Homo sapiens: one gene and its partners. The protein of the gene in region 2 purifies or fractionates together with the protein of the main gene of each other region. This does not show direct contact. Each region holds a gene or a part of one and is shown on either strand. Other genes may lie near its edges.

What was found.
Region 1: the proteins of DHH (region 2) and RCC1L purify together in Homo sapiens (affinity purification with mass spectrometry; 2 studies listed by BioGRID and IntAct, with this or other methods). This does not show direct contact.
Region 3: the proteins of DHH (region 2) and RPIA purify together in Homo sapiens (affinity purification with mass spectrometry; 2 studies listed by BioGRID and IntAct, with this or other methods). This does not show direct contact.

What each region holds. Positions count from the first base shown.
Region 1 is NC_000007.14:75,070,382-75,078,219, forward strand, and holds the start of RCC1L (RCC1-like G exchanging factor-like protein), read right to left. Parts: upstream 3,422-7,838; 5' UTR 3,357-3,421; coding exon 3,033-3,356; exon of another isoform or gene 2,799-3,032; intron 389-2,798; coding exon 259-388; intron 1-258. UniProt on the Homo sapiens protein: Guanine nucleotide exchange factor (GEF) for mitochondrial dynamin-related GTPase OPA1. Activates OPA1, by exchanging bound GDP for free GTP, and drives OPA1 and MFN1-dependent mitochondrial fusion. Plays an essential role in mitochondrial ribosome biogenesis.
Region 2 is NC_000012.12:49,091,174-49,099,746, reverse strand, and holds the start of DHH (desert hedgehog protein preproprotein), read left to right. Parts: upstream 1-4,945; 5' UTR 4,946-5,234; coding exon 5,235-5,537; intron 5,538-5,558; exon of another isoform or gene 5,559-5,625; intron 5,626-6,328; exon of another isoform or gene 6,329-6,498; intron 6,499-6,830; exon of another isoform or gene 6,831-7,289; coding exon of another isoform or gene 7,290-7,451; exon of another isoform or gene 7,452-8,256; intron 8,257-8,357; coding exon 8,358-8,573. Other genes in the region: protein LMBR1L, read left to right, coding at 1,642-1,803, 2,008-2,075.
Region 3 is NC_000002.12:88,694,673-88,701,672, reverse strand, and holds part of RPIA (ribose-5-phosphate isomerase), read right to left. Parts: intron 3,190-7,000; coding exon 3,129-3,189; intron 1,665-3,128; coding exon 1,609-1,664; intron 1-1,608. UniProt on the Homo sapiens protein: Catalyzes the reversible conversion of ribose-5-phosphate to ribulose 5-phosphate and participates in the first step of the non-oxidative branch of the pentose phosphate pathway.

The DNA of each region.
Region 1 (7,838 bases), on a different chromosome or scaffold from region 2:
TGAACATAGTGAAACCCCAACTCTACTAAAAATGCAAAAATTAGGCAGGCATGGTGGCATGTGCCTGTAATCCCAGCTACTCGGGAGGCTGAGGCAGGAGAATCACTTGAACCCGGGAGGTGGAGGTTGCAGTGAGCCAGGATCTCGCCACTGCACTCTAGCCTGGCAACAGACTGAGACTCTGTCTCAAAAAAAATACAAAAAAAGAGCTTTCTCAGACCAATCCCGGCAAAGAGGAGACAAGGTAGGGATGCTCACTTTTATCTTTCCGGCTCCTGTGAAATCCAAGCTGAGAATCTTTGTTGAGTCCCATCCCCCAGACTTTCGTAACATCCGCAGTCTTAGAGGACAGCAGTGTGAATCCATAGCCGCAAGCAGCAGATGAAATCTGAAAAGCAGTTCCCACAAAGCATGAACTGATTTATAATGTCAAGTTTGTTCAGTAGTAAATGACAGGTTATTTATCAAATCCAAGAACACATACTATTTACGGGGGTTTTGTTTTTGTTTTTGAGACAGTCTCACTCTGTTGCCCAGGCTGGAGTGCAGTGGCGCAATCTCGGCTCACTGCAATCTCCATCTCCCAGGTTCAAGCCTCCCAAGTAGCTGGGACTACAGGTGTGCACACCACGTCTGGCTAACTTCTGTATTTTTAGTAGAGACAGAATTTCACTATGTTGGCCCAGGTGATCTCAAATTCCCGGCCTCAAGTGATCTGTCCGCCTTGGCTTCCCAAGGTGCTGGGACTATATGCGTCAGCCACCGTGCCTGGCCCAAGAACACATATTATTAAGACAGCAACTAGCATTTATTGAGCATTTACTATATGTTTGATAAGTATTATCTCATTTAATCTTTATAATCACTCTATGAAGGGTGATTTACACATAGACCATAAATATAGTCTATTTATGGTCTATGTCAGCTTACCACTAGGTATTACCATCCCCATTCACCAAGATCAAGACACTATCTAGCAGCAGCCGAGTACGGTGGCTCACACCTGTAATCCCAGCACTTTGGGAGGCTGAGGCAGGCAGATCACTTGAGGTCAGGAGTTTGAGACCCGCTTTGGCCAACATGGTGAAACCCCATCTCTACTAAAAATACAAAAATTAGCTAGGCATGGTGGCGTGCGCCTGTAATCTCAGCTACTCGGGAGGCAGGAGAAGTGCTTGAACCTGGGAGGCAGAGGTTGCAGTGAGCCAAGATGGCGCCACTGCATTCCAGCCTGGGTGACAGAATAAGACTCTGTCTCAAAAACAAAACAAAACAAAACAAAACAAAAAACACCACCATCTCTTAGCGCGGTAGGTAAGTTGACAGATCTCCTTAGTTTTGAATCCTGGCCCCATCCTTACCAACTGTGTGATCTGAGATAGATTACTTTACCTCTATATCTGTTTCTCCTTCTCTAAAAAGTAAAGATGATAATAGTACCATCTCTCTCACTAAGCTGTTGTGAAGACTAAACGAGTTAATATAGCTAAAGCCCTTATAGGGAATAGTACCCATCTCAAGGTAAGAGCTATATTTTGAGCCTAGGCAACAAAGTGACAACCTGTCTCTATGAAAAAATCAAAATTTAAGCTTGGTCCCAGCTACATGGGAGGCTGAAGCAGGAGGATCACTTGAATCCAGGAGGTCGAGGCTGCAGTGACCCATGATCACGCCACTGTACTCCAGCCTGGGCAACAGAGCCAGATCAAAAAAAAAAAACAAACCTATATTTTGTACTCTATTTTGTATTTTAAATTTATACATATACATATACATATACATATATATATATATATATATATATATATATGGAGAGAGAGAGAGACAGAGAGATGAGTTCTCACTGTGTTACCCAGGCTGGTCTCAAACTCTTGAACTCAAATGATCCTCCTGCCTTGGCCTCCCAAAGTGCTGAAATTACAGGCATGAGCTACCGCACCTGGCCTATATTGTATGCTTTTTGTTGTTGTTGTTTAGTTTTTGTTATTGCTTTTGTTATTATATTTTCTATTTCTTATTGCTGTTAGCAGTAGTATAAGGCAGATGAGAAAGTGTGGCTTCTAAAGGTTGAGTAACTTGACTGCATGCTTTTCACTGACACTACACCGTTACGTACTCAGGCTATTACCATGAAAAGGAAAACTCAGTACTACAGCTACTGTGAATTTAACACAGTGACAACCCCAAGGTCTTTGTTGGGTGTTTTAACTACACTCTCATCAATCCTCCCTTCACTGACCCGATGAGAAAACCGGGGCTTCCAGTGAGGTTGGATATAGACCAAAGATGGTTTGATTTTAAAATCAATCCTCTTTCAGCCAGGCACAGTGGCTCACGCCTGTAATCCCAGCACTTTGGGAGGCCAAGGCGGGCGGATCGCTTGAGTTCAGTTCAAGACCAGTCTAGCAAACATGGCGAAACCCCATCTCTACTAAAAATACAAAAATTTGCCGGGCTAGGTGGCAGGACGATCTCTTGAGCCCAGGAGGTCGAGGCTGCAGTGAGCTATGATGACACCACTGCACTCCAGCCTGAGCGACAGAGCGAGACCCTGTCTCTAAAAAATAAATTAAAACAAAAAAATCCCCTTTCTGAGTTGTTCATTGAAACACCTCAGCTGGTATACATTTTCAATGGACTTTTGAATTTTGCTTTCCTAACATCAGAACTCCTGCAGTCACGCTGGCCTGAGTGAGAATTCCACCGCATATAAACAGCTAGCAGCGGTGGGGCCTCGGGCCTCAACCTCTCTGGGCCTCCCCTTCCTTCCCTGTAATTGGGAATAACTGTCGACTCACTGGGTGCTAAGCGAATGACACGACCCGGCACAACATCTGGCACTGCCACCCAATAAATGTTGATGGCCACCCCTAACGCCTTCCCCTCCTGGGCTTGCAGCCAGCTCGAGGGTCGTCCTGCCGGAAGTCTGTCCACCCAGAGGAGCCAACTTCTTGAAGAGAGCCGAACAGGTCGAGGGAGGCCGGGAGCGCGGAAGAGAGAGAAGGAGAGAAGGAGGAAGCCGCGGCCTGCACCTTTTGGTCCAGCTCCAGGCGATAGGGCACGGGCTGGATCCTGCGGCGCGGTCGGGCGCCGGCGCGGGGCCCGGGCCCGGAGCTGGGCACCACAAAGGAAGGCACGCCCAGCGCCCCCGAGAAGCTGAAGCCCCACACGAAGACGCGATCGGCGCGGGCAGCGCGCTCGCCCACGTACTGGACCACGGGCACCTCCGCCTCGGCTTCTGCCGCTTCGCGCCGGCTCCGGGAGCGCCCGGCCGCCGTCCAGTGCCCTCGCCCCAGCCCCGGCCCGCTCAGCCGCCGCCCCAGCCGAGCCCCAGCCACCAACGCCACCAGCGCCATCCTCCGTTCCGCGCCTCAGCAGCCTCTGGGCGCCGCCATCTTGCGTGACCCTTAACACCAGTCCTCGCCGGAAGAGGCTACGGCCACTTTTACTCCTGGTTGAAGGCAAAGGCGCTGACGGCAGCCCAAGGCTCAGGGAGGCGTGGCGTGGCGATGGTGAGGGGCGGGGTTAGGGGCGGGATTAGGATTCTTGTCCCTTAGCGAAACTGCGTGTCCTGTTTTGCTCCCTTGCTATTGCCCCGCGACATTTCTTACCTGGCCTTGCTGCAGCCGTCTCCGCTCCGGTCTGCTCCCACGCCGCCCCAGGCCGTCCTCCAGCGACAGCGAGCTGGAGTGGACGATTCCCTGCTGCCTTCGCATCCCCTGCCCAGGTCCCCTCAAACCTATCGACAGGCTCACTGCAACCTCCCCCTCCTGGGTTCAAGTGACTCTCGTGTCTCAGCCTCCCGAGTAGCTGGGACCACAGGCGTACGCCACCACGCCCGGCTAATTTTTGTATTTTTAGTAGAGACAGGGTTTCACGATGTTGGCCAGGTTGGTTTTGAACTCCTGACCTCCAGTGATCCACCCACCTCGGCCTCCCAAAGTGCTGGGATTACAGGCATAAGCCACCGCCCCCAGCCTGTGCAGGCCTGTTTTATGGAAGATGACTGGGGAAAACCCACTAATAAAATGTGGTGACCACAAGACTGCTCATGGAAAGCCTCTTACTACAGGGAGTAAAATTCATGAAGGCACTGAAACCACCAGTCTCCCGGGCTATGAAATGTATTCTCTGCGGCGGACCCAGTCTTCCAGCACTTTGGAAGACAAAGGTGGGAGAATCACTTGAGAGTTCGAGACCAGCCTGGGCAAATAGTGGGACCCTTTCTCTACAAAAAAATTTAAAAATTAGCTCGGCGTGATGGTGTGCACCTGTGGTGCCAGCTACTTAGGAGACTGAGGCAGGTGGATGGCTTAAGCCCAGGAGTTCGAGGCTGCAGTGAGCCATGATTGCACCACTGCACTCCAGCCAGGACAGCAGAGTGAGACCCTGTCTCTGAAAAAAAAAAAAATTAAATTAAATGTAAATATAAAAGTAAAAATAAATGTGTCTATGGACCCGCCTGGTAGTAAGTTCCCTGCCACCATTTGGGATAGATAAACTTAGCCATTCACATCGGTCCCCTTACCCTGTCTCGACCCAGCCAGTATTCAATCAGAACACACACTGTTTGCCACATGGAATTGTAGATGCTAGTGCCACCTTCAAAGATGTAAAAGATTCAGAGGGGTGGTGATTCCTATCCAATGGGTAGCTCCCCATTGAGTTCACCTGTTTGGCTCCTAAAAAAACTGATGGATTGGCCAGGCATAGTGGCTCACACCTGTAATCCCAGCATTTTGGGAGGGCAAGGCAGGCACATCACGAGGTCAAGAGATGGAGACCATCCTGGCCAACATAGTAAAACCCCATTTCTACTGAAAATACAAAAATTAGCTGGGCGTGGTGGAACGCACTGTAGTCTCAGCTACTTGGGAGGCTGAGGCAGGAGAATAGCTTGAACCCGGGAGGCGGAGGTTGCAGTGAGCCGAGATCGCACCACTGCACTCCAGCCTGGCGACAGAGCGAGGCTCCGTCTCAAAAAATAAAAAAAGATGGACTGTGGTAGGGGACAGGGGACCACCATACATTTAGGCAAGTGCATGGTCCAACTCATAGCTGCTGTGTCAAGCGTGCCGTCTGTTTTTTTGTTCGTTTGTTTGTTTTTTGAGACAGAGTCTCAGTCTATCACCCAGGCTTGAGTACGGTGACATGATCTCGACTCACTGCAACCTCCGCCTCCTGGGTTCAAGCAATTCTCCTGCCTCAGCCTCCCAAGTAGTTGGGATTACAGGCGTGCACAACCACACCCGGTTAATTTTTTGTATTTTTAGTAGAGACGGAATTTCACCATGGTGGCCATGACTGGTCCCCAACTCCTGACCTCAGGTGATCTGCCCGCCTCCACCTCCCAAAGTGCTGAGATTACAGGCCTGAGCCACCGCGCCCAGCCATGGCATCTGTTTTACCAGAAGAGATCAACACACCCTCTGAAACATGATACAGGACACTGATCTGGTGAGTGGGTTCTTTTCAATCCCTAACAGAAAAGAGGACCAAAAACAGTTTGCCTCTGCGTGAAGGAAAGCATTACTCATGAACTCTCCCACTGTCTCACTCCCGACACCACCCACATTAAGTATCTGTTACAAGACCTTGTCTCCAGCCGGGCGCGGTGGCTCATGCCTGTAATCCCAGCACTTTGGAAGGCTGAGGTGGGCGGATCACGAGGTCAGAAGTTTGAGACCAGTCTGGCCAACATAGTGAAACCCTGTCTCTACTAGAAATATGCAAAAAATTAGCTGGGTGTGGTGGTGTGTGCCTGTAATCCCAGCTACTCAGGAGGCTGAGGCAGGAAAATCATGTGAAACCGGGAGGCGGAGGTTGCAGTGAGCCGAGATCGTGCCCCTGCACTCCAGCCTGGGCGACAGAACGAGACTCCATCTCAAAACAAAAAAACAAAAAAAACTTATCTCCGTCTCTATTCCTTTATTCCTTATCTCTGTCTTTATTCCTTTATTTTTTATTTTTTTGAGACGGAGTTTCACTTTTGTTGCCCAGGCTGGAGTACAGTGGCGTGACCTCAGCTCACTGCATCCTCCACCTCCTGGCTCAAGCGATTCTCCTGCCTCAGCCTCCTGAGTAGCTGGAATTACAGGCGCCCACCACCACGCCCGGCTAATTTTGTTTTGTATTTTTAGTAGAGACGGGGCTCCACCCTATTGGCCAGGCTGGTCTCGAACTCCTGAACTCAGGTGATCCACCCGCCTCGGCCTCCCAAAGTGCTGGGATTACAGGCATGAGCCACCGTGCCCGGCCTATTTATTCATTTATTTACTCATTTTTTAGAGACAGAATTTGGCTGCACTTGAGTTGATAAATCTGAGACATATATTGATAAAGGACAATTATGTAAATATTATAAATATAGTTAATATTAATAGTTAATATAGGGAATATTTATATATTTACGAAATGCATACACAGTTCAGCTGGGTGGAGTGGCTCATGCCTATAATCCCAGCACTTTGGGAGGCTAAGGCAGGAGGACTGCTTGAGCCCAGGAGTTCGAGACCAGCCTGGGCAACATAACAAGACCTTGTCTGTATACAAAATTTAAGAATTAGCCTGGCATGTTGGAGCCCACCTGTGGTCCCAGCTACTTGGGAGACTGAGGTGGGAGGATTCTTGAGCCTGGGAGGTCGAGGCTGTAGTGAGCTGCATTTGCACCACTGCACTCCGGCCTGGGTGACAGAACAAACCCTGTCTCAAAAAAAAAAAAAAAAAGAAAGAAAGAAAAGAAAAATTTTGAACTGAACTTTCATAAGCAGGACTGTCCTTTTATCTGAGTTTGTGTCCTTTCTAGTTTTTTGGTTTTCAACATCTGATTTTTTTGTTTTTTCAAAGTCTGGCTTTTTCATCAAGGCTGGAGTGCAGTGGCACAGTCTCGGCTCACTACAACCTCCGCCTCCTGGGTTCTAAGTGATTCTCCTACCTCAGCCTCCCAAATAGCTAGGATTACAGGCACCCACCACAATGCCTGGCTAATTTTTGTATTTTTAGTAGAGACGGGGTTTCACTATATTGGCCCGGCTGGTCTCGAACTCCTGACCTCAGGTGATCCACCTCCTGACCTCAGGTGATCCACCTCCTGACCTCAGGTGATCCACCTGCCTTGGCCTCTGTAAGTGCTGGAATTACAGGCGTGAGCCATCCCACCTGGCTCAACGTCTGGTCTTTTACAAACTCATAATGACAATAGGATAGTAGGTTTTAAAATTTTTTTTACTTGTCAATATTTTAATAACCCTATGTGAGTTTCTCAAATTTCTAAAACATTTTACTATTAGGGGATATCCAAAGGACACAAGCCTTGGTTTAGTATTTTGAAGATAAAAGGACAAACTGCAATGTGAACCGCAGCCACGGGGTGGCAATACTTACCCACCAATTCTGTCTCCTATGAAAGGCTAAAACATCCTAAACGTCTATTTGGCCAATAAAGAGCTGGATTTGTAGCCACAACTGGGCTTTTCTATTTTGCTATCAAAACTTGGTTGGTTTTGTAGACTGCTTCTGTGCTAGAAAATACTTACTTTTCTGGCTTGGCGTGGTGGCTCACGCCTGTAATCCCAGCACTTTGGGAGGTCGAGGCAGGTAGATCACCTGAGGTCAGGAGTTCAAGACAAGCCTGGCCAACATGGTGAAATGCTATCTCTACTAAAAATACAAAAAAAAAATTAGCCGGTCGTGGTGGCAGGTGCCTTTAATCCTAGGTACACAGGAGGCTGAGGCATGAGAAATGCTTGAACCCAGGAGACAGAGGTTGCAGTGAGCCCAGATTGCGCCACTGCTCTCCAGCCTGGGCGACAGAGAGAGACTCTGGCTCAAAAACAAAC
Region 2 (8,573 bases):
AGCCAGGTGTGGTGGTGCATGCCTGTAGTCCCAGCTACTCGGGAAGCTGAGGCAGGAGAATCACTTGAACCCGGGAGGCAAAGGTTGCGGTGAGCTGAGCTCACGCCATTGCACTCCAGCCTGGGCAACAAGAGCGAATCTTCATCTCAAAAAAAAAAAAAAAAAGTTCAAGAGTGTAACTAGTTCACCCCAAGGTAGTGTGTGAGCTGCAGAGGTAACAGCCGCCCTCCTACCTCCCCCTAAATACCACATCATCCTCTGTATTTTATATGTGATTTCATATTTAAGTCAGTTCTGGGGCCAGGCCTGGTGGCTCACGTCTGTAATCTCACACTTTGGGAGGCCAAGGTGGACAGATCAGCTTGAGGCCAGGAGGTCAAGACCGGCCTAGCCAACATGGTGAAACCCCATCTTTATGAAAAATATAAAAATTAGCCAGGTATGGTGGCACATGCCTGTAATCTCAGCTGAGGCATGAGAATTGCTGAGCTTGGGAGGTGGCTGAGGCATGAGAATTGCTTGAGCTTGGGAGGTGGAGGTTGCAGCGAGCCAAGATGGTACCACTGCACTCCAGCCTGGGTGACAGAGCGAGACTCTGTCTCAGAAAAAAAAAAAAAAAAAAATCAGCTGTGAGCCAGGCCTGGTGGTTCACGCCTGTAATCCTAGCACTTTGGGAGGCCAAGGTGGGAGGATCACTTGAGGCCAGGAGTCCTAGACCAGCTTGAGCAATATAGTGAGACCCCATCTCTACCAAAAAAAAAAAAAAAAGTGTTTTTAATTAGCACACCTATAGTCCTAGCTATGTGTGAGACTGAGGCAGGAGGATTGCTTGGGCCCAGGAGTTTGAGGCTGCAGTGAGCTAAGACTGTGCCACTGCACTCCAACCTGGGCAACAGAGCAAGACCCTGTCTTAAGACAAAACCAAATTAAACAAAACAAAAAACAGCTCTATTTCATTCTTAACGTTATATTATTTCCACTCTACCATTTGTATTTATGCCAGGAGAATTTGTAAGAAAGTAGGTTTGTGGGTCTTCCAGTTAGTTCCTTTAGGGTGGATGCAGGTAAGAATATTTAAAGGTGGAGAGCAGAGTTTTTTGATTTATGATAATATTATGAGGGGACCAGTAAATGTTAGAATAGTGCCTGGCACAGACAGTGCTTTATGTGTGTTGTCTCATTTAATTCTTAGGAAACTGAGGCACAGAAAATTTAAGGAAATTGCCCCAGATCACGCAGCTAGTTAGGGGTGGAGTTGGGATATGAACCAAAGCAGCCTGATGAGTATGAGCGCCCAGCAACCACACTGTTCTGTCTACTAAAAAAAACTTGGCAAACTGCTTATTCCAGGCCCAGGAACAAGTAGTAGGCCCTGGGAGTTCCTGGGGACACCAGGAGCCAGAGGAGGCCTCACTGGAGGAGAAGATACCAGACTCTGGAAGCGAAGTTGAAGCAAGCCTAGCTGCTGGCACTTAGAACAGTCCCGAACTGCTCTTGAGACAGCTTGGGTGGTAGAATTGGGAGAGGCCAACCTATCAGTTGCAGTGTTGAAATGTGGCCACCAGGAGGCAGCAGAAAGTTGGGCTGGTAGCAGAAAAGGGCCTGGGGAGCCCACCTCTCATCCTGGCCTTTGTGCTTCAGGGCTCACTCGCTTTGACCTGCTGGGTGACTTTGGACGCTTCAACTGGCTGGGCAATTTCTACATTGTGTTCCTCTACAACGCAGCCTTTGCAGGCCTCACCACACTCTGTCTGGTGAAGACCTTCACTGCAGCTGTGCGGGCAGAGCTGATCCGGGCCTTTGGTGAGAGGGAGTGAGGGTGCAGGCTAGTGGGGGGTGGTAATCATCTAGGACACTCTGGAACATGGATCACCCCAGCAGGGGAGAGGGTGTGCTTCCTGCTTTGTGGGTAACGTACCTCATCCACACATTCTGTGGCTTGGCTGCCTGGTCCCTAACGGACTGGACCTTTGACTTGCTTTTGACTGCCCATCTCCTCTTCTCCAGGGCTGGACAGACTGCCGCTGCCCGTCTCCGGTTTCCCCCAGGCATCTAGGAAGACCCAGCACCAGTGACCTCCAGCTGGGGGTGGGAAGGAAAAAACTGGACACTGCCATCTGCTGCCTAGGCCTGGAGGGAAGCCCAAGGCTACTTGGACCTCAGGACCTGGAATCTGAGAGGGTGGGTGGCAGAGGGGAGCAGAGCCATCTGCACTATTGCATAATCTGAGCCAGAGTTTGGGACCAGGACCTCCTGCTTTTCCATACTTAACTGTGGCCTCAGCATGGGGTAGGGCTGGGTGACTGGGTCTAGCCCCTGATCCCAAATCTGTTTACACATCAATCTGCCTCACTGCTGTTCTGGGCCATCCCCATAGCCATGTTTACATGATTTGATGTGCAATAGGGTGGGGTAGGGGCAGGGAAAGGACTGGGCCAGGGCAGGCTCGGGAGATAGATTGTCTCCCTTGCCTCTGGCCCAGCAGAGCCTAAGCACTGTGCTATCCTGGAGGGGCTTTGGACCACCTGAAAGACCAAGGGGATAGGGAGGAGGAGGCTTCAGCCATCAGCAATAAAGTTGATCCCAGGGTTTGCTTTGTTTTTTTAAAGCACCTGTCTCTGTGTATATTTGAACAGCCTTGCTCCCACCAGCCCGGCGTCTGCCCAGTAAGAGAAGCAGAGGGGTCCTGCCCACCATCCTTTTCCTTCCCCTTCATCTATATTATTACCATCCTTTGGGGACTTGGATCTGGTGTTAGGCCATGCAGTTGGGCAGTGGGAAACTCCTCCATCCTCAGTCTTGCTTAAAGCTGGCTTGTCCCCTGACTCCTCCTTATATTCATGGCCTTGTTTCTGTACCTTGAGTATTGGGGGTAGGACATGGGCATAGGAGTAGGCTAACCTCCCCGATACACTCATACCTTCAGCCCTATCCTCCCTGGCTTAACTATTGGATATAGAGTAAAATAAGTGGCTGGCTGACAAGGATTTTCATTTCCTACCTGAGAGAAGAATCTAGCTTTTTACTAGAGGCCATCAGTTTCTTGAAAAGCCCATGTGCTATGTTGGGAGTAAGAGCGCAAAACTTAGGCTTATACAGATTGTGTATTGCACAGCTTCCAGGGACACCATTCACCTCATAGTCATTGTGTGGATAGTTACTATGATAGTTTTCTAATAAATGTCAGTCATCTTGAGGAAGGGGTGCTTTTTTTTTCTTTTTTCTTCTTCTTTTTTTTTTTTTTTTTTTTGTGAGACAAGGTCTGGCTCTATCACCCTGGCTGGAGTGCAGTGGTGCAATCTCAGCTCACTGCAACCTCCGCATTCTGGGCTCAAGCCATTCTTCCAGCTCAGGCTCCAGAATAGCTAGGACAACAGACACATGCTACCATGCCTGGCTAATTTTTGTATTTTTAGTAGAGATGGGGTTTTGCCATGTTGCCTGGGCTGGTCTTGAACTCCTGAGCTCAAGTGATCCACCTACCTTGGACTCCCCAAATGATGGAATTACAGGGGTTAGCCACAACACCCAGCCATCTTTTTTTTGGGGGGGGGGGTCCTCACTCTGTCACCCAGGTTAGAGTGCAGTGGCATGATCTTAGCTCACTCTACAGCCTTGAACTCTTGCACCCAAGTGATCCTCCTTCCTCAGCCTCCTGAGTACCTAAGACTACAGGCATGTACCACTACCTCCCACTAATTAATTTTTTTTTTTTGAAACGGGGTGTCACTATGTTGACCAAGTTGGTCTTCAACTCATGGCCTCAAGCAGTCCTTGCCTCGCCCCCAAAGTGTTGGGATTACAGGAGTGAGCCACTGTGCCTGGCCTGGTTTTTTCTGATGTACACAAAGTTGCTATGAGTACTAGCCATAGAGTGTGGTGAGGGGAGGGTGAATATGAAACACAAAGTGTAGATTCCACAAATGCTTGCAAAGCACCCTTCTGTAGAGTAGGCACTTAACCTTGGAGATACATGATAAATATGTGTGTGCTTAAGATTGCTTTGTCTAGTAAGGTGCCAGATAATTCTAATACTGTTCTAACACTGCAGTTAAGTAATGGTTCTCGAGGGAACACAGGTGGGCAGTGTTGGGACATCAAGGAAGGCTTCTTAGAAGAAATGACTTCTAAACAAAAGAAATTGGACGTGGTGCCTCTGAGATGAGATCTGAGTGGCTGAAAATGGAGCCCCGGGAGTCCAGAGAGGGAGAAAGCTGGAGAGGTGCCTAGATGGACGGTTAAGGGAAGTGATCCTCACCTCTTACAAAGACTTTTGAGTGTCCACTGCCCTTCAGCAGCTTCCAACTGAGAAGTCATTCATTTGAAAAACAGCAGCTATTAGATGCCTGGCAAAGAAGAGAAGGGGAAAAAAGTTGGAAGTCCTAAATGAGACAATAAGTACCAAGCTCTGTTCCTGGTTCTGGGGAAGTTCCAAAGGAGACTGCAAAGTTAGTAGAGAAATGGGCCCCTGGTATCCTCACCTCCCAGTCCTGCTTAATGCTGAATGTGAGGAGAGATGGAAGTCGGGGAGATCTGGGGAGGACTACAGAGAAGGGAGGCTCTGGTTGTATGCCCAAAGGGCTTGGCTGGTCTTGGGCAGAAATTGGAACCCATACTTCCTGGATGACAGCGGAGGGCATGGCCTGCCAGGGTAGGCTTTGAGAGAGTAAAAATTCCAATTCAAGTATCAGAGGAGGGTGGTTTGGTTCCAAGTTTAAGCTTGGAGGTAGAAGGATGTTTAGGCAGCCAAGGACTGTAAAGCTACAAGTATTTCCTAGGCAGGTGTCTGCCTGGTTTCCAGGATGGGACACACTTCAGTCGCAAAATGGACCAGCAGTGACCGGCTAGATCCCCCGCCCGGGTGGGAGGGGGTGGGACGGTCTTGGGAGAAGGGCGGAGGGCGGGGCCAGGGGCCACTTAAGGCGGAGTCCGGAGTCCGGGCGTTCTGGCAGCACCAGAGTCCTGCAGCAGAGACGGGCTGGGCTGGCACTCACCCACGACCCCCCTTCCCTGCTATGATGGTTTGTCAGTAGCAGGTCCTAGACACCCCCCGCCCGCTCCCGGGGCACGTGGGCAGAGCTAGCAGCAGCCAGGTGCACGGAGCCACAAGAGCTCTAGGGCACTCTGGGGGCAGCTGTGCCTGCTGCCCTCTCTGGTGCCTGTGGAGATGCCTAACTGACAGGAGAGTTAGTGAGGACAAGAACGCTCCCTTTTGGCCGAGGTCCGCTGTATCCATGGCTCTCCTGACCAATCTACTGCCCCTGTGCTGCTTGGCACTTCTGGCGCTGCCAGCCCAGAGCTGCGGGCCGGGCCGGGGGCCGGTTGGCCGGCGCCGCTATGCGCGCAAGCAGCTCGTGCCGCTACTCTACAAGCAATTTGTGCCCGGCGTGCCAGAGCGGACCCTGGGCGCCAGTGGGCCAGCGGAGGGGAGGGTGGCAAGGGGCTCCGAGCGCTTCCGGGACCTCGTGCCCAACTACAACCCCGACATCATCTTCAAGGATGAGGAGAACAGTGGAGCCGACCGCCTGATGACCGAGGTAAGGAGGGCCTCTCCCTACCTGCGCCGGGGCACTGCCAGCTCCTCCGTTTTCCTATGGCAGCCCAGGTGGGTGAGTCCAGCTTCACCTACAGAGAGTTTAGCCTTAGAGATTTCCCTTGTCACCAGCCCCAGGGGGGGGAAAAATCCTTGCAGTCTGGACAGAGTAATTAGGACGGCTCCCGACTAGAATAGTCTGGGATGGGGAGGGGAGGAGGGACTGACTAGTGAGAGTGAAGCTGGTAGAGGCAGCGAGGGCGGGGAAAGGAGGATGGCGGCAGGCGAGACGGGAAATGGCTGAGGCGTGGACCGGGGGTCAGCCACCCAGCCAGGCAGGAAGGGCTGGGGTGAGCTGGGGGCCAGGAGCTGGCTAGGTAGCAGACAGAAGCCTGGCTCCTGACCTGATTGTAGAAAAGCTCTGTGGGCCGAAAAGAAGAGACTGAAAAGGGCTGGGACAGGGGTGGCCAAGGGTCAGGTCACCAGACCATCTACCTGAGGAGGGGCTGGGCAGACATTGCTTTTGGCATGGGAAACGTGTCCTAGAACCAGGACACATCTATTCTAGGGTCTATTCTAGGGCTATCCTAGGGTCTAAACGATAATCTTGGGGTTAAAAAGTAATCCTCAGTGAGAATAACAGATGGACCCACCTGAGAATCAGAGGGCTCCTAAGTCTTCCAAGCTCTGCCTATCTCAGGGGCTTTCCTTGGAATTACATAATTAGGATAAATTCAACTACCATTTTTGAGCATTGGAACCACCTAGAGTGAGGTGGAAGAGAAGGACCACCTCTGGCGAGTGATTTATTTTTTATTTTTTGTAGAGACGGGGTCTTGCCATGTTGCCTAGGCTAGTCTTGAACTCCTGAGCTCAAGGGATCCTCCCACCTCGGCCTCCCAAAGTGCTGGATTACAGGTGTGAGCCACTTCATCCAGCCTGGCCAGTGATCTTGAATGTTAGAACTGAAAGAAAACTTGAGAGATGACATTCCTCCAACCCTCCCCACCCCCACTGCCACCCTCATTTTACATCTGAGAGCTGGACTTCCCCCAGGAGGAAAAGCAATTTAAACTCTCACAATTTAAAGTGGCATGGCTGGGACTAGAATTCAGGACTCCTGATTCTAAGCCCTATATACTTTCCATTACACCACCTAATTGTGTATGGAGTGGGGAGGTGGGGGGAGAGGGAGGGGTACGGATTTCCTCTGATTAATTGCCATAGTTTTCCAGGTTACTTTGTTAGGAAAACCTGTCCAGGGAAGAAATAATTCCTTTTGCTTCTGCCCTGAAGCCTTCCTCCTACCTAGAGATGGGAAAAGGGGCATTCCTTCTTTCCTCCTTGGCCGTGGAACATTGTGGCCCTTTCCTCTGGTTGCCACCTGCAGCAGAGTGGGCAGAACAAGGGACAGGCTCAGGAGGGGCTCCGGCAGGCCTGGGAGCCCCCTCAGTCTTACTTATCTCCCACACCCTGGCTGCAAAAGGCCTCCATTGAGTTGGCTCTGCACTGGGCTGCTGCCCCCGCAGGTCAGGGCCTCGGGGCCTCCTTAGGGGACGAAACGACAAAGTTGGAAGGAGCTACCACTTTTCCTGTTTTCCCCCCACCCAACCCCAACTCTGCGGGGTGGAGGAGACTAGAGGAGAGGGGAAAAGTGTCTTTCTGTTAGGAGAAAACCAAGTCCGAGGTGAGAGGTCGGAGGGGAAAGAAAAAAAGGAAGCTGTCCCTCTGCGCCTCCTCCCGCGGTGTCCCTGCTATGGTGCGCGCCAAGGTCTCCCGCTCCCAGGCTGGAGCGGCCAAGATAACTGTGGTCTCACTCCCCCAGGTGCAGGCTTCCAGCCGCAGCTTCTTTTCCTCTTCTCCGCTCTCACCCTGCAGGGGGCTCCCCAGATCCGCACAAGGAGACCGTTATTCTCAGGTGCTACTCCCACGCCCTTCTGGGCTGCATCTAGAGCAGAGATGGGAGAGATAGGGGCTCTCCGGACTGGCAGAGCCTTAGCTGGAACTGGGAAGACTGGACGCGCGGGGGGAGGGGACCTACCCGGACGGAGCAGGGATTGGGGGCGCGGCTTTCTGCCCTTTCCTCTCCCTGAGCCGGGGCGGCTGAAAAGCGCCTTTGTGGCCGGAGCTGCTGAGTCCGCTTCTCCCAGCGCGTTCCCGGCCTGGGCTCAGGATTCTCGCTCGGTTAAGTCATCCCGGATAATGGCCATTGTACTTCGCGCAACCCCCGCCACCCCAATCCTTTTTCCAGCAGCCTTGATCCCGCACAGCTCCTCTTGGGCACCTCTCTGGGGGGCACCCAGAGCACGAAGGGGTTAATGCTAAGGGCCCAAAGGAGGAGGAGGAAGGAAGGAAGGAAGCGATGCCCGGTGCCAGGGAAGGCAATGAAACAAAAGATGAATCAGGCGGAGGGAGGGGAGCCGGTGCCTGGGGCGGGGGCCAGGCTCAAACAGGGGCTCTCCGGGAGCAACCAGGCCCTCCCTGACCACGCTTCCATTCGCCCTCCTAACTCTGTCCTTCTCCCAGGTTGAGCCGCTGTCCCTGAACCAATAGGGGTGAGGGACGGGCATTAAAAATGGGGAAGGAGCTAGGTATGGGCACCCCCTCTCAACCTCAGAGGTGAGCCCACAGTTCTCCAACGACGTCCTGGGAACAGAGTGCAGATTGGTGACTACCATCGACTCAGATTCTCATTTCTCCAGGACACTCAAAAGCTGGGAGGGGTAAGAGTAGGGCCGGAATAACAAAGAATCAACCCTCCTATCCAGGTCCCTTTTGCCCCAAGGGTGGTGGTGGGGAGACTGACTCCTTTATTCCCCGCCAGCGTTGTAAGGAGCGGGTGAACGCTTTGGCCATTGCCGTGATGAACATGTGGCCCGGAGTGCGCCTACGAGTGACTGAGGGCTGGGACGAGGACGGCCACCACGCTCAGGATTCACTCCACTACGAAGGCCGTGCTTTGGACATCACTACGTCTGACCGCGACCGCAACAAGTATGGGTTGCTGGCGCGCCTCGCAGTGGAAGCCGGCTTCGACTGG
Region 3 (7,000 bases), on a different chromosome or scaffold from region 2:
TTGGCTCAGAATAAAATTAACTTTGACTTAAATCTATAGTGGCTGTTAGAATATCCAATCACCTAAAAGAGCTAAAAGTATGTCCATGTAAAGAGCAAGAAATAGTGGAGGTCAGGGGTGGGAGGTAATAAGAGTGTGCTTTCTAGGTAGTGGTCATCTAGGGGAAAGTGAGGGTAGTGTGCTTTTTTTTCTTTTAAATAAAAAGACTTGAATTATTTGTTTCTTCAATCCACGTGCATATATAACTTTAAAAATAAACACCAATGTAATTTATTAACTAAGAAATAAAAATACTTGATGATCAAGCCAGTTGGAAAAATTAGATACTTAGCTTTTCAAAAGACTAAGAAAATCCATCACAAGCCACTGAGGCTTTAAAAGCATTGCCTCAAGAAAGCAGGATTTAAAAAAAAAAAAAAAAAGCTATATAAAACACTTAAGATATTGCCTTCAGTCCCCTGGGTGGCCATCCACCTTGTTTAAGGTCTCCAAGAGATTTAACATCAAGGAAGCTCCAACAGTATGCACTATCCAACTCCCTAACCTGTCTACCTGGAATCTCTGCCTTACACCCTACTGTTAAGCTGAGGCCAGTCTGGTTTAGAAGGAACCTTAACCTCTCTCCCTTCACCAGAGCTGGTTGCAGGCTGCCAGCATCCTGTGTCTCCAGGATTGGGAGGGTTTCCTAAGAAACCCAGCTATCCAAGCCTAAGTCCATAAAGTCCCAGGAGCATCAGTCACTCATAAATCTCATCTCCTACCCCAGTGCATAGTATCATCTTGACTAATCCAGCGAGAGATTATACACATACTCCTCCCTGCAATGGCCAGATGAGGGATGACAATTGGCTCCATCTGAGCAACTGTCTTCCCTTCCACTTCCCAAAACCTCTCTTCCCTTATCTCTCCCTATATTTAACTGGCTCCACTGCTTTCCTCCATCAGCTCCTACTATTTTATGATGTACTTGCATTACCAACACATTGCTTAATTCCTTTTAGCCTGATTTTTTTTTTCTTGAGACAGGGTCTCACTCTGTTGCCCAGGCTGGAGTGCACTGGCACAATCACAGCTCACTGCAGCTTGGACCTCCTGGGCTCAAGGGAGATCCTCCCGCCTCAGCCTCCTACATAGTTGGAACTACAGGTACAAGCCACCACACCCAGCTAATTTTTGTATTTTTTGTAGAGGCAGGCTTTCACCATAATGCCCAGGCTGGTCTTGAACTCCTGTGCTCAAGTGATCTGCCTACCTTGGCCTCCCAAAGTACTTGAGATTACAGGCATGAGCCACCACACCTGGCCTAGCCTGATTTTTTTCACCTATAAATAGGAGTAATATTCCTTGAGGAGAGAGACTACCGGGCCATCTCTGCATTCTCCGTAGTGCCTAAACTCAACATGCACTGAAATATTCACCAAGTGATTAAACAAATGCACCTAAAACTACAATTCCAAGAAGGAATCCTTGGTCAATAAACTCTCCTATTCCTGGACTCTCTGACCTAGAACAACCTTGAGGTACAAGACAAGGCCATAGGTCCACAACCCCGGGGAACCAGAAGATACAGCAGAAGCTGTCACGATGCAGATGGAAAGCAGGACATACCTGGAAGGAAGTGGGAATACAGACGAGGTTCAGATTCTCTTGCTTCACCCTTTCAGCTGTGGAAACAAAAGCCATATTGGCAGTTTTTCACTCTCCTTACTTTATTCTTCTTGTCATATGTGTTTGCTCGAAACCAACAGACAAGGGAAGGTCTATTTCCCAAAGACAGCTGCCTTTCATCCTGTGTCCCCCTCCTTGGTGGGAAAGTTGGTGACTGTACCTCACACATCAGAAGATAGGGACACAAGAAAGCCTGGAGAGGTAAGTACTGACCACAGAAAGCAGTGTCAGTGTTTGCCATTGTTATGTGCCTGACAATATTCTAAGAACTTTGTATATATGAACTCTTAATCCTAACAACCCAAAAGGTAAGTTAAATTATTTTCCGCATTTTGCAGATAAGGCAACTGAGGTTCAGAGAGGTAATGTAACTCGGTAGTTATACTGCTAATAAGGGACACAGCTGGGACATGATCCCAGGCCATGTAGCCACACAGTCTTAACTCCCCTATATTGCCTCTTCTAGGAAAAAGCCAGAACTTTACTTTTGCATTTTAGTAAAAAACATACTTATTTGTAGGCCCCAGAGAGTAGCTAAAGGAGATTTATTTTTTCAATTTGGATTTGTACCTTTCAGGAAAGTTTGATTTAAAAAAAAAAAAAAGACTTCAGGAAAAAATTCGTATTAAAATTTCAAGTCTTTTTAATCACTGAGTGCATCTTGGGAGGTTTGGGTGCCACTATTATAAAATCCATAGTAACTCCTGTGCCCTGAAAGTATTCTCCAGATACTTGGTTAAGATTGAAAGGTATATAACACAAAAGCTCCTATTTGGCCAGTGAGAAGGCTTCCAGAAGCCATCACACCAGCACTAAAACCACTCCTTGATAACAAAGTGTTCCTGGACTTTACCTCCTGGGCTCTGCCCCTTGGCACCTAGAAGAATTCAGCATTCAGGCAGGCCTCTCCTCTGGGCTTTGTTCTTACAAACAAAGAGCAGGGAAGTAAAACCTGTTGAGCAGCCATAGGGGCTGATAATTCCTGAGTCTTTCCTAAGCATAGAGACACCCTAATCAGTGTGAAATGAGCACCTGCAGGAACCAGCCATCAATGGCAGGAGTCCCACATCCACTCCAGGGTCATGGACAGGGCAAACCCACTATGGCCTCAATTATCTGCCTGAGGAAGTCTGAGCTCACGCAAAGAACTCAATGGTAGAATGCCATCAACATGATTAAAATTATATTGGGACCTCAAGCTAAGTCAGCTCCTCCCCTCCAGCTGAGCAGAGTAAACAAAGGCAAGGGCGTCCTTCAAAGTTGGATGAAGAGGCCCAAGATTCCCTCTCTCCACAAAAGAGCAGAAACACTCAACTGACCTCAGGTAGTCCCTCTCTCCAGCTCTGTACTGCTGAAGCCAAAAGGGCAATGCCAAACCTGTGTGCCACTTCCTCCCTCTCCTCTACCTCCCTACCCCATCATCACACACAAAACATCCAGTAGACAGTGAGAGAGCATACCTATTCGCTGCACAGCATGGACAATTGTAGAACCACTTCCAATTCCCAGCACTTGGTTATTCTGCCAAAAAACGGGGAAGAAAAAACAAAACTTATTAATATCATATTTTACTCCTTTGTCAGCCTACTTCCTAAAGCTATAAAATTATTATGAACAGCAATCCACCAACACAGGTACAAGACAGGTACTGTGCCTATTTTATAGGAACATAAACAATGAACCTCAATGCTGTACTTTAGCCAATCCATGGTGGACAAATGTTCAACAAGGCCCTCCTCTCTTCATTTCTGACACTGTCAACACCACCGCTTCCTCCCTACATTCTACCAAATAATTGGTGCAATTACTTGCAACTGAATAGCAACTTGCGTCACCCTCACAGAAATGGCCTGCATATAAACACTTAAAGATTCCTGACATTTCAAGCCAGCAACAGTGTGTTTAAAAAAAAAAAAAAAAGAAAGAAAGAAAGAAGAAGAAGAAAGAAAAGAAAAAGATTCCTGGCCAATCCCAGGGAGGCAATTAGAAAAACACCTAAGAAAAAACAATAGAGCCTGGAGCCTGGGTAAGGGAGGAAAGCTAAGGCTTCTGGCTTCAGTGTCTTCCATAGGCACCTTCAAGTTGGTAGCACCACAAGACACATCAGGCCCACCATCTAGAGCTCTCCCAAAGTCAGCAGATAAAGGGAGGGCCTGAAGTAACCTCAAAATAATAAAGTATGTCAGCATCTGCCTAGGTGACACCAAGGGGTGCTCATTTTGCATGAGCCTGCCTCAGAGAAAATGGAAAGAGGGCAAAGGCTTAGTTAAGAACATGAAAAATAGTCTTCATCTGCAATAGAAAGGATCATAATAAATGCAGAGCACTTCCTGAGTACAAAGTACAGGCAGACATCACAATACGGAGCCTACCTACAAGCAGACCAAACAAGAAGAAACAAAGAAGGTACCTACAAGCAGACCAAACAAGAAGAAACAAAGAAGGTACCTGCAAGCAGACCAAAGAGTAAAAGCTCAGCTGAGTCTACTAGACCACAAAGAGCAAAACGAGGCCAGGGTACTAACAGTCAGGAACTAATATGCAGCTCAGTGCCTAAGCAACTTCCTGACATCTATCTCCTGCCTTTGCAAGGCAAAGCCAAGTGAACACCAAAGCGGCAGCTACCATTTATTAAGCACCTACCAAGAAGACTTATAAATGTTAATATAAAGCCAAATCTCACAACAATCACTTATGACCTACAGAGCCACTATTTCCACTTTATAGATGAGTTCAATATTGTAAGGAAAAACTTAAGACTTTGAAATGAGCAAAAGAGACTACTGGATATCCTTCCAATGGGATGCTGGAACCTGCTTGTATTGTCTGACTCTAAGAAGGTATGTGCCTTTGTCTTTAAGATATATGACGACTGTATAGAGATACACTTTAACTTGCAGAAAACTGTTAACAAAGCAAGTAAGTTTTGTTCATTGAAATGCAAATTAATAGTGTTCTGTGAGACACAATTATTAACAGATCTTCTAAATTCATTTTAAGATTTTTTTACTACATATGAGCTTACAGTTGACTTCTCCTGTTATGCTTTGAACATCTCCACCAAAACTCACGTTGAAATTTAATTGCCATTATAACAATATTAAGAAGTGGGACCTTTAAGAGGTGATTAGGTCAGAGGGCTCCACCCTCATGGGTAGGATTGGTGCCCACCCATAGCACTTCAACATCTGTCTCTCTCACCAGATGCCAACGCCTTGATATTGGACTTCGTAGCCTCCAGAAGTATAAGCCAAAACATTTCTGTTCATTATAAATTACTCATTCTCAGGTATTCTATTATAGCAGCACAAAATGGACTAAGACACCTATGAACAGGTTCTAATAACCTTTCCAGTTCCCTCATTAATTTAGTGAGTTAAATAAAATCTTTGACATATATTTGTTTTATATATGTGTGATTTTACCTGTTTTAAATATATATACAAGATATACAATATATCTTGTATATATGTTTATAATATATATAAACTATCAATGCCCCCCCACACACACACAAACTCATCTTCAAACTCCTGGGCTCATACAATCCTACTGCCTCAGCTTCCCACATAGCTAGTACTATGGGAACATGCCACCATGCCCAGCTAATTTTTTTAATTCTTTTAAAAGACACAGTCTCACTCTGCCAACCAGGCTAGTCTCGAACTCCTGGCCTCAAGTGATCATCTCACCTCTGCCTCCCAAAGTGCTGGGATTACAGGATGAGCCATTTCAATCGAATAAGCAACTTCAGGAAGTTCAATTCGCTGAAACATCAATCTATTTCAAATTTCTTAAGATTTCCAACAACTGATTAACAATTAATTTATTTGACAAAGGAAAGCCCATAGTAAAACCTTCTTTTTAGGAAGAAGACAAGTCCTGAAGGGCCCTCAGGACAAGCAGGGCCACAACTAAAATCCTTCATTCCCCACAGGACAAAGGCCATAGGAATACTTAAAGTCAGCCCCTAGGCCTCACATTAGATATGGTCCTTCTCAAAGCCTGACTACATCTATAACTAGAAAAGATTAGAAAGAATGACCAACAAGTAGAGTTACCAAAAAAAAAAAAATCAAATACTAATGTCCCCACAACCATATACATATATACTAAAAATGCTACTATAGCCTCTCCTACCTACAGAAGACTTTATCCAACAACTTTTGTGTTATTGACCTGGTGGAAACTGCTTTTACTAGCTCACAGTTCCAAAGGCACTGAATACATCAGGGGCTTGGGCTGTCAGAACAGGGCTCGCACTAGGTCAGGATTCCACCTATACCAATGCTCTCAAGAAGGCAATGTGTGTAGTAAAGTTGTTTAGCTACCTGGACAATCCCCAAAGGCAAGGACTTCAAGACAAGTAAATGATACATCACAGTACAGAAACATTCAAAATGGCTAAATATCTCACATATAAAAATCTTCAAGGAATGAGAAAATGTCTTATCAAGGCCTATGTCTGAGTGTGGAAAAACTCAAACTTTTTCCTCTGCTCTCACACCACAACAATCATCAACACAGAAGACTTCTGTGATCAAATGTATGGGGATTTCTCCCCGTATCCCAAGCAAGCAATCTACTCTGCAGCAGACACCAGCTGGGTATCCTCCAATTCAATTTCAACACTCTCTACCTGGAGATACCATAAGGTTCCACTGGTTGAGGGCTCAGCTCCCAAGATTGCCTCCTCCTTCCTACCAAATGCAAGTCCAGGCCTCCAGAACTTCTGACTTGACAGCTTCAAGTTGGAGTTTCCACAACACTCTCTTTGGGTTTGATTAACTTGCTAGAGTGGCTCACAGAACTCAGGGAAAACATGTTTACCAGCTTATAAAGGCTATGATGAAGGATATGGATGAAGAGATGCATAGGTAAAGGCATGTAAGAAGGAGCACAGAGCTTCCATGCTCTCTCTAGGCACACCATCCTCCAGGGACCTTCACATGTTCTGCTCTCCAGAAGCTTCCAAACCCTGTCCTCTCGAGCTTTTCTTTTTCTTTTTCTTTTTTTTTTTTTTTTGAGACTTTATTGAATAGGTATGATTGGCTCTTGGAAAAGACCAGGAATTGCAAGGGCCTAGAAATGTGACTGAACAAAAAGGGCATGATCCAATACTAGCAGACTGACTGGGGAAACCCTGCAACGGCTGTCTGTTCAGATTCTTCTTCACCTGCAGCATTCCTTCCTCCAGGGTATGGAACAGGAACCCTTCTGAAATGGGGATCTTATGACGTACAAACAGACAACATAGGTCACAGAATTTCTTTACAGCCAGCTCCAAGACAGAAAAGCATTGGGGAGAGAAAGGAGCAAGTGGAAGGAGGGA